3 separate regions of the Homo sapiens genome follow, and regions 1 and 3 are each linked to region 2. The links come from fine-mapping of genetic effects on gene expression. A gene starts in region 2. Each other region holds a variant in brackets. All regions are shown on one strand. Distances are from middle to middle. Region 1 overlaps BDP1 (BDP1 general transcription factor IIIB subunit). Region 2 holds the start of NAIP (NLR family apoptosis inhibitory protein). Region 3 overlaps LINC02197 (long intergenic non-protein coding RNA 2197).

Region 1 (2,770 bases), 530 kb before region 2:
AGAACTTGCAGTGAGCCGAGATCGCACCACTGCACTCCAGCCTGGGTGACAGAGCGAGACACCGTCTCAAAAAAAAAAAAAAAAAAAAAAAAAAATTAGCTTGGCATAGTGGCGCATGCCTGTAGTCCCAGCTAGTTAGGAGGCTGAGGTGGGAGGATTGCTTGAGCCTGGGAGGTGGAGGCTGCAGTGAGCTGTGATTGTGCCACTGCACTCCAGCCTAGGTAACAGAGTGAGAACCTGTCTTGGCGGGGCGGGGGAGAAAAAAAGCCATTACATTCAGCTAACTCCTAAAGTGTAGTTATTGAGCTTACATAGAAAATCCTTGTAGCCACATAGTCTTCAACTGATGACAGGATGAAAAGACCTTCTTTTGCCTACCAAACTGCCAAATCCAAGGCCTTTGCAGGAAAGAAGTGCTGATAATACAAGTATTACTCTTGGAGAAAAGGAATACTCAGTTTCAATCTCATATTTGAACAAGGTATATCCCAAATAATCAGGAGTATTTAGCAAAATGCAATCATGTTAAAATGTATTTCACTTACCTGTTTCCTCAAAAACATTTGTTAATTCCTTTGAGTGCACCTATTTTAAGAAAATTTAAAAAAAAATTTAGAAATTTATCAAGTAAAACTGAAATTAATTTTATTTCCTTTTTTTCTTTAAGTAAAGAAACTATGTTATCTCCCAAAAAGCTCTTAGAGGAATTCTACTAAACATTTATGGCAAAAATATTGCTACTATTTTAAAATGTTCCAGAGCCCACTGGAAGAGAGAAAGCTGCTAACTGCCTTTTATAATCAGTCTCAATATCAGTGCAAAAGTATCAAAGAAATAGTACAAGCAGCACATCAAAAGACTACTACATCACAATCAAGTAGAGCTCGTTTCAGGAATGCAAAGATGATCTGACACTATGAAATCTAATATAAACCAACAGACCTGAGGAGAAAAATCATCTGTATTTATAGAAAAGGTACCCAATGATATTCATTCTTGAAAAAAACTTATAAAATGGAACAGATATTTTCTTAACACTATAAAATATAACTATTGCAATCTAGAAGCTAGCATCCCACATAATAAACACTGGAAGTTCTCCTATTAAAATCGGAAATTAAAAAAAAAGATGTGCACTATTTGGATCACTTTTTAATATTATTTTTTAGTTATATTAGCCACTATAATTACAAAAAAATTAGAACTACAAAAAGTAGAAGAATTAAAATTATATTTGCAGATGGTATGTCTGTTTACCTACAAAACCCAAGAGAACCAACTGAAAAATTACTGCATACAATGAGGGAACTCAGTAAGCTCTCTAAATAGAAAAGAACTTAATGATAACAGCAACAAAAAAGATAAAACTCATAGGGGTAACCTATAAGAAATGTGTAAGATTTATATGAAGAAGAGTTTAACACAAAATAGA[AAGAC/C]ACAAAACAAGACTTAAACAAATGGAAAGACATACCATGTTTTTGAATAGGAAGATTCAATATTATAATTATGCTGTCAATTTCCCCTAAGTTAATCTAAGTTAATATGATTCAAATACAAATACCAATAGAACTCTTTTTTAAAGAGCTAAACAAGTTAATTCTAAAATTCATATTAATTTGAGAACATATAAGTAATGAGGAGAAACTTGAAAAAAGAAGAAAATTGTATGGGTTTGGGAGAGATACTGTCCCTATAAGATACCAAAGTGCATCATAAAGCTACAAAAATTCGGCCGGGCGTGGTGGCCCACACCTGTAATATCCCATCACTTTGCAAGGCCGAGGCAGGCGGATCATCTGAGGTCCGGAGTTCGAGACCAGCCTAACCAACATGGAGAAACCCCGTCTCTACTAAAATTACAAAATTAGCTGGGCGTGGTGGCGGCTGCCTGTAATCCCAGCTACTCGGGAGGCTGAGGCAGGAGAATCACTTGAATCTGGGAGGTGGAGGTTGCAGTGAGCTGAGATCACGCTATTGCACTCCAGCCTGGGCAATAGGAGAGAAACTCCATCTCAAAAAAAAAAAAAAGAATAAAGAAAACTACAAAAATTCAAACAGTATGATGATACTGGCCCCAGAACAAATAGGTGAATCAACATAAAAGAAAAGGAAGTTTTAGGAATATATCCAAACAAATATGAAGATTTACTGTCTTACTGATAAAAGCAGAATTTCCTATCAGTGGAAATAAGATGAATTATTCAGTAAACGGTAAAAGTCATATGAGGAAAATTAACTTGGCCCTATTCCTTACACCAAATCAAATTCGCAACAAATCAGTAATATTAACATTAACTAGGAAATTTAAGTCTCAAAGGACTTTCAATGTATAACATAATCTCCAGAAGCCATACACAAAAAGACTGATAAATCTGATTATGGAAAATAAAAAATGTCTTCTATCTGAATACAGTGTATGTGTATCCTACAATTTTGTACAGGCTGAGCATCCCAAAGCTGAAAATCCGAAATGCTCCAAAATTCTAAACTTTTTGAGTGCTGACATGACACTCAAAGGAAATGCTCATTGAAGCATTTCAGATTTTGGCTTTTCAGGTTTGGGATGTGGAACTGTTAAGTATAATACAAATGTAAGTATAATGCAATTATTCTAAAATTCAAAAAAATCTGAAATTTGAAACACTTCCGGTCCTAAGCATTTCGAATAAAGGATACTCAACTAGTAAAAGCAATTTTTAAAAAATTGTTAAAATGCTAAAAACAAAGTTTAGAAAATAAAAATCACAAATAAGCCAAATGGACATTATAC
Region 2 (2,770 bases):
TTAGGTAGTAGTGTCACTGGAAGTAAAAGAGAAGTTACTTTAACTGCTAAAGAGTATCCACTAAGAATCTACATCAAACATCATGTTTAATGCTCAAACTTTAGAAGAATTTATACCAAAAGTCAAGAATAAGATAGGATATCTATCTTCATTATTAAGCAACATTATATTAGAGGACCTAATCAATGCAACAAGGCAATAAATAAAAGACAAAACTGTCATAATCAGATACTACAAACATCTAAGAAAATTCAGGGGGATTTACAGTCATATATTAAACAGTCCAGAAGGAGTCCTATACATCATCAATGAATATTGAGAATAAAAAATAGTTTTTAAAACCCCTCCAATTTATAAGGGCAACAAAATGTACAAGGTACTAAAATAAATGTAATGTGTATTTGGGTATAAATACAGCAACATAATGAAAAGGTTTATTGGGGAAAAAATTACAGGGAGAAGGGTCAACAACGTGAAGAGGTTCCCCTGCCATCTGGACTTCTGGAAAAAGACCTGCTGGTCTAGGCACAGCTGGATGCACCATGGAAAGTGGTTCCAATAAACACTGGCACTGTAACAATTGTGTATGTTGATACAAAAAGAGGGAGCCAATGAATACTTGGTCGATTATTTAACAATTGCTTCTCTGCTGAAGAAATGGCCTTGTTGGACTAGAGCTTAACTGTGGTTCACATACTAATGCTGCTATAACAGCTAGAAGCCTTACTAAGAAATTTGCTAAACCACCAAAAAGAGGAAATGAACCTTCTAGGATATCTGGATTGCCTTTTCTTAAAAATCTAGTCTTGGCTGGGTGCTGTGGTTCACGCCTGTAATCCCAGCATTTGGTGAGGCCGAAGTGGGCGGATCACGAGGTCAAGAGATCGAGACCATCCTGGTCAACATGGTGAAACCCTGTCTCTACTGAAAATACAAAAATTAGCTGGGCGAGGTGGCATGTGCCTGTAGTCCCAGCTGCTGGGGAGGCTGAGGAAGGAGAATCACTTGAACCCAGGAGGCTGGGTTTGCAGTGAGCTGAGATCACGCCATTGCACTCCAGCCTGGCAACAGAGCAAGACTCAGTCTAAAAAAAAAAAAAATATATCTAGTCTGTATGGCAGCACAACATCAGGTAAAAGTACAGACTAGCCAGATCACTGGTTAACCTTAACCCCTATGTGCTTGAGTTTCCTTATCTGTAATATGGAGATGATATAGCAATAGCTGATTTTGGACTGTTAAAGGAATTAAGTGGACACATGTAAAGTGCTTAGAATTGTGCCTGGCAAGTAGTAGGCTGCAATATTGTGATATAATAAATATATATATTTGATCTTCATCCAGTTCCTGGCACAGATCTCCAGAAACCCTTGTAATTTCCTGAGTGACAGGGGTGATAGAAACATCTTTTATTAGAATACTTGGTCTTGGTTCCTGACACAAGAGCTTCTAAGACCTTTGGAATCTCCAAGTGATAAGAGTGTATGACAGTGAGCTAACTGGTGGCTGGGATCCTTTAGACAACTTCAGGATGGGGGCTATCCCCTGAAAGACTAAGGCATGATTAGAGGTCTGGGATTTGCAGCCCCACGCCTCGACCTCCAGAGAGGGTAAAAGGGCTGGAGATTGATTAACCACCAGTTGCCAGTGATTTAACCAATCATGCCTAAGTGATGGCACCTCCATTAAAAAATAAACCACAGGTTTGGAGAGCTTTCGGTTTGGTTAACCCCAACCACATACCAAGAAGGCGATGCACCTCAAACTGCATGAAGACAAAAGGTCCTGTGCTCACCTGGGACCCTTCTGGACGTTGCCCTGTGTACCTCTTCGACTGCCTGTTCATCTGTATCCTTTATAATAAAGCAGTAAACATAAGTAAAGTTTCTGAGTTCTGTGAGCCATTATAAGAAACGATCGAACCTGGGATTTTCCTTTCGGAAGCCGCTCTCTCTCACAAGGGAGAGAGCTGTTCTCCTTTTTCTTTTGCGTGTTAAACCTCCGCTCCTAAACCCACTCTTCGTGTGTATCGTGTCCTTAACCTTGTTGGTGCGAGACGACGAACCCCGGGTATTGACCCCAGACAACAATGCCACTTCATATTGGGGACTTCGTCTGGGATTCCAAGGTGCATTCATTGCAAAGGTGAGTAAAGGGGCGGACCTCAACTCTGTCCTTTGATTTCGAGGCTCTTGGCCTCCATTTTAGAATCAAACCAAACCAAATACTGGGCCCCCTTCTGCTTCTGTGAATGAGAAAACTCTGCCTTCACCAATTAGCCATTTAAAAATTATGAGCGTGGCTGCCAGCCTTACAAGTTTTGGGGGACAGGCTTGCTGGGGAGAACATGGAGAACCCCCCAATACCCACGGGCTGCTGGGCATATTGGCCATGTTTGAACCAGTTTCCTTTCACGGAGGACCAAGCTGTCGTGTGGGGCTGGAAGAGGTCCTGGAGCAACTGAGGATTTCTGGCTGGGGCTACCTCCTGGTGCCATCCGAAGGCTTCTGGACTGACCCCAGCCTCCGGCCACCCTAAGGGGTGTCGGCAACAGGACCTCCAACTTTCCTATCATAATTCCCTCATTTCCTATCCACGACCACCATGTCTCCTAACCTCTCTCTGTATGCAGTACTGAGGGAGTTTTACAGTTCAGGGAAGTAATCTTGTTAGGCAAGAACAAAGACTGCTGTAGTAACCAGGGATATAGCACAGGGGCATGCTGTTGTGATTTTCTAGGAACAGAGGGTCTCCTCTCCCACCACAGTGA
Region 3 (2,770 bases), 350 kb before region 2:
TATTATGATGGCCACTAAGAGTATTTAAAAGCATTATAAGTTGTCACACACCTCATTAACTAATATTGATTAGAATTTCGGAGTTAAAAATGTTGCTCATTTTACAGGTCATTACAATTAAGTGCTTACAGCCACCAAAATCATATTTTGGTAAAGTGTGTATTGCATAACCCAGGCACATTTTCATGCTAGAAAAATGTTTAAATGATATGCATTGCTTTGTATGCTGGAAAGATAGGCGATCATTATGGATCTATTGCAAGGCACTGAATTGGAATATATTCAGATTGAATTTCTGAGCTGTGTTGTGCATCAGAAATTTCTATATTCTCATCTCAATATTTAGACCTTCTCTTTCTCTACTCATCTGTGAAGATGATAATTCACTCCTTCATCAGTGCTCTATTTTGTACCTTCGATGTCCCTACTGTATGTCTGTCTCGAAACTATTGATTCAACAAAGTACTTTCTGCCACAGTTTATACCATTTTGGAGATGAGATACTTAACTGAATGTTCTCTTGTTCATTTAGCCACTGCTCACCGTTAACCTTGCTTTCTTCCTTTCTATATACCCATATTTCTACCTAAATGGGTTAAAAAATTGATATATTGTGTGTTTATTCTTTGGAAGAGTTAACAATTAAGATTGTAGACAAAAGCATCACAATGGGAAAAACTGCCTTATAGTTTTATTTGTGGAGAGTCAATATGAATTTGTCAAGGACCTATCAGGATCAATGTGGCAACCTAGCTCACCATCACTTTTGTGATATTTCAGTAAATAATTAAGAATCTCTTTCATGAACGAGCTGACAAATGTACTGGAAAGAACAAAGGCCTCATAAAAAGGTATCATGTGATAGAATCCTAGATCCCCCTCATTGCTAGCAGCTATACGGACTTTGATAAATATTGATAGTTTATATATTGTACACGCACACATACACAGATACATATACACAATTAGTTTCACATAATTGCATATATGTGATTTTACCACAAATGGCCGTAGCTATTTTCTCACACAATGCAACTGTCTTGACGTGGAGTTGAAGAAAACTGGATTCAAGTTTCTATGTTCCCAGAATCTCCCACCTTTTCCAAAAAGCAATTTAATTTCTGAAAACCTTAGTGTCTTCTTCTGCAAAATAATGAGAAATGCTTGTGCTTGAGTCCAACTCTAGGATTGTAGTCCCCTTTATATAATATAATCAAGTTCCTCCATCTGGGCATTCAGTTAAATTCTACAACATTGCCAAAATCTGATTTGACTCTACAGAATATGTATAGTTTATTTAACCAGATAGTAATTTAAAATTTTACAACATGCGTATTTCATGTAATATTAATAACAGTAATTTAAATTAATATTCAATACATACCGTTTGAATTTTTATAAGGT[A/TA]ATATTTGTTTTTAATTTTTTATTTTAATTTGTAATAAGCTCAAAATTATTACGTCAAAATGTGGAAAGATTGCCATTTTTGGTTTATAACAGATAGTAAGAAATGCTTATAAAATTCTTACCAGTTAATCTAAGCAGGTAGAGGACCAGTATTAGTTAAACTTGGATATAGGAAAGATGCCTCCACATAATGAATAAAACACACTGCACATTTTTATCCCAATTTTCTTTTTACTTTTAGTGCAAAATCTTAATTAAAATTTTGACTATGAGGCATTGACCAAGAGGCCAAAAATAATCAAAAGAGTTCAAATCTATGTGTCTTTATTGTACTTGAAGACAAAATTGTAACTAACACTGTTATGATTAGTAGTACATTAATTAAAATGGTTTAAGCTGGCAGTAATATAAATCAATGATCCTTTTCAAGTATTAGTTGGATAAAATTAACATTAACTCAATTCTGCTTATTTCCTGGAAGTATTTTAAACTTTAACCAATAGATATGACTTTTAAAATTTACCGTTTTTCAAATCTTAGAAGCTAATTATATTTCTAAACAGTTAGTGGATAAATTAAGAAAAGAACAACTTATATTTCTAGGGAAAATTATTTTCTAAAATTTGCACTTACTTGAGTAGATAAAAGGACTGACTTTCAGAGATCACAATCACAGATTTATGTTTTGGTAGAAGTGGTCTGAGAATACTGGTAAAAATATACAGATGTTAGAGTATAACAGAATGAATAATCAGTACGTCAATAAACATTCTGAGAATCTGCAGTTTACTGGTTGACTGCACTCTCCTTGACAAAGGTCTTTTTTTTTTTTTTAAGTGACAGTATGACTTGTCATTTATTTCAATGAAAATTTAAATGTTTCTTACAAATCCTCTGAAAATAAAACCGATATTTTTACAAACAGAAGTATATGCAAACAGTCACAATATGCATTAGGACACTGACGCTATTTCTTACATGCCAAGTCGTTCTTCCATTCTGGAGAACACCTCTTATCTGAAAGATTTTTTTTCTTCTACTATAAATTTGAATCTAAGTTATTTTTAAAGAGTCAAAAACAGTGCAGAGCATTTTTGAACTGATAAACAAGAATATAGGCTGGACTCAGTGGTGCACGCCTGTAATCCCAGCACTTTGGGAAGCCAAGGCAGGTGGATCACAGGGTCAGGAGTTCCAGACCAACTTGACCAAGATGGTGAAACCTTGCCTCTACTAAAAATACAAAAACCAGCCAGGCATGGTGGTGGGCACCTGTAATCCCAGCTATTCATGAGGCTGAGGCAGGGAATTGCTTGAACCCGGGAGGCAGAGGTTTCAGTGAGCCGAGATCGTGCCATTGCACTCC

Evidence for each region. PIP is the estimated chance that this variant, and not a neighbour inherited with it, causes the effect.
Region 1: its variant is the best candidate, but not a certain one, in a credible set for the expression of NAIP in whole blood (TOPMed, PIP 0.61).
Region 3: its variant is the best candidate, but not a certain one, in a credible set for the expression of NAIP in whole blood (TOPMed, PIP 0.58).

What each region holds. Positions count from the first base shown.
Region 1 is chr5:71,554,701-71,557,470 of GRCh38, reverse strand. It overlaps BDP1 (BDP1 general transcription factor IIIB subunit), which reads right to left. Exons shown (of 39, transcript NM_018429.3): 36 at 546-585. Among named protein-coding and RNA genes, the nearest start is that of MCCC2, 31 kb to the left of the region's middle. The variant AAGAC/C (reference allele first, on the strand shown) is at 1,433.
Region 2 is chr5:71,023,693-71,026,462 of GRCh38, reverse strand. NAIP (NLR family apoptosis inhibitory protein) reads left to right here and starts at 1,124. Exons shown (of 17, transcript NM_004536.3): 1 at 1,124-1,848; 2 at 2,057-2,145. RefSeq lists cis regulatory regions at 1-995, 1,361-1,574 and promoters at 996-1,360, 765-2,770.
Region 3 is chr5:71,376,848-71,379,617 of GRCh38, reverse strand. The region is part of intron 2 of LINC02197 (long intergenic non-protein coding RNA 2197); the gene reads left to right. It also overlaps the pseudogene PMCHL2. Among named protein-coding and RNA genes, the nearest start is that of LINC02197, 69 kb to the left of the region's middle. The variant A/TA (reference allele first, on the strand shown) is at 1,405.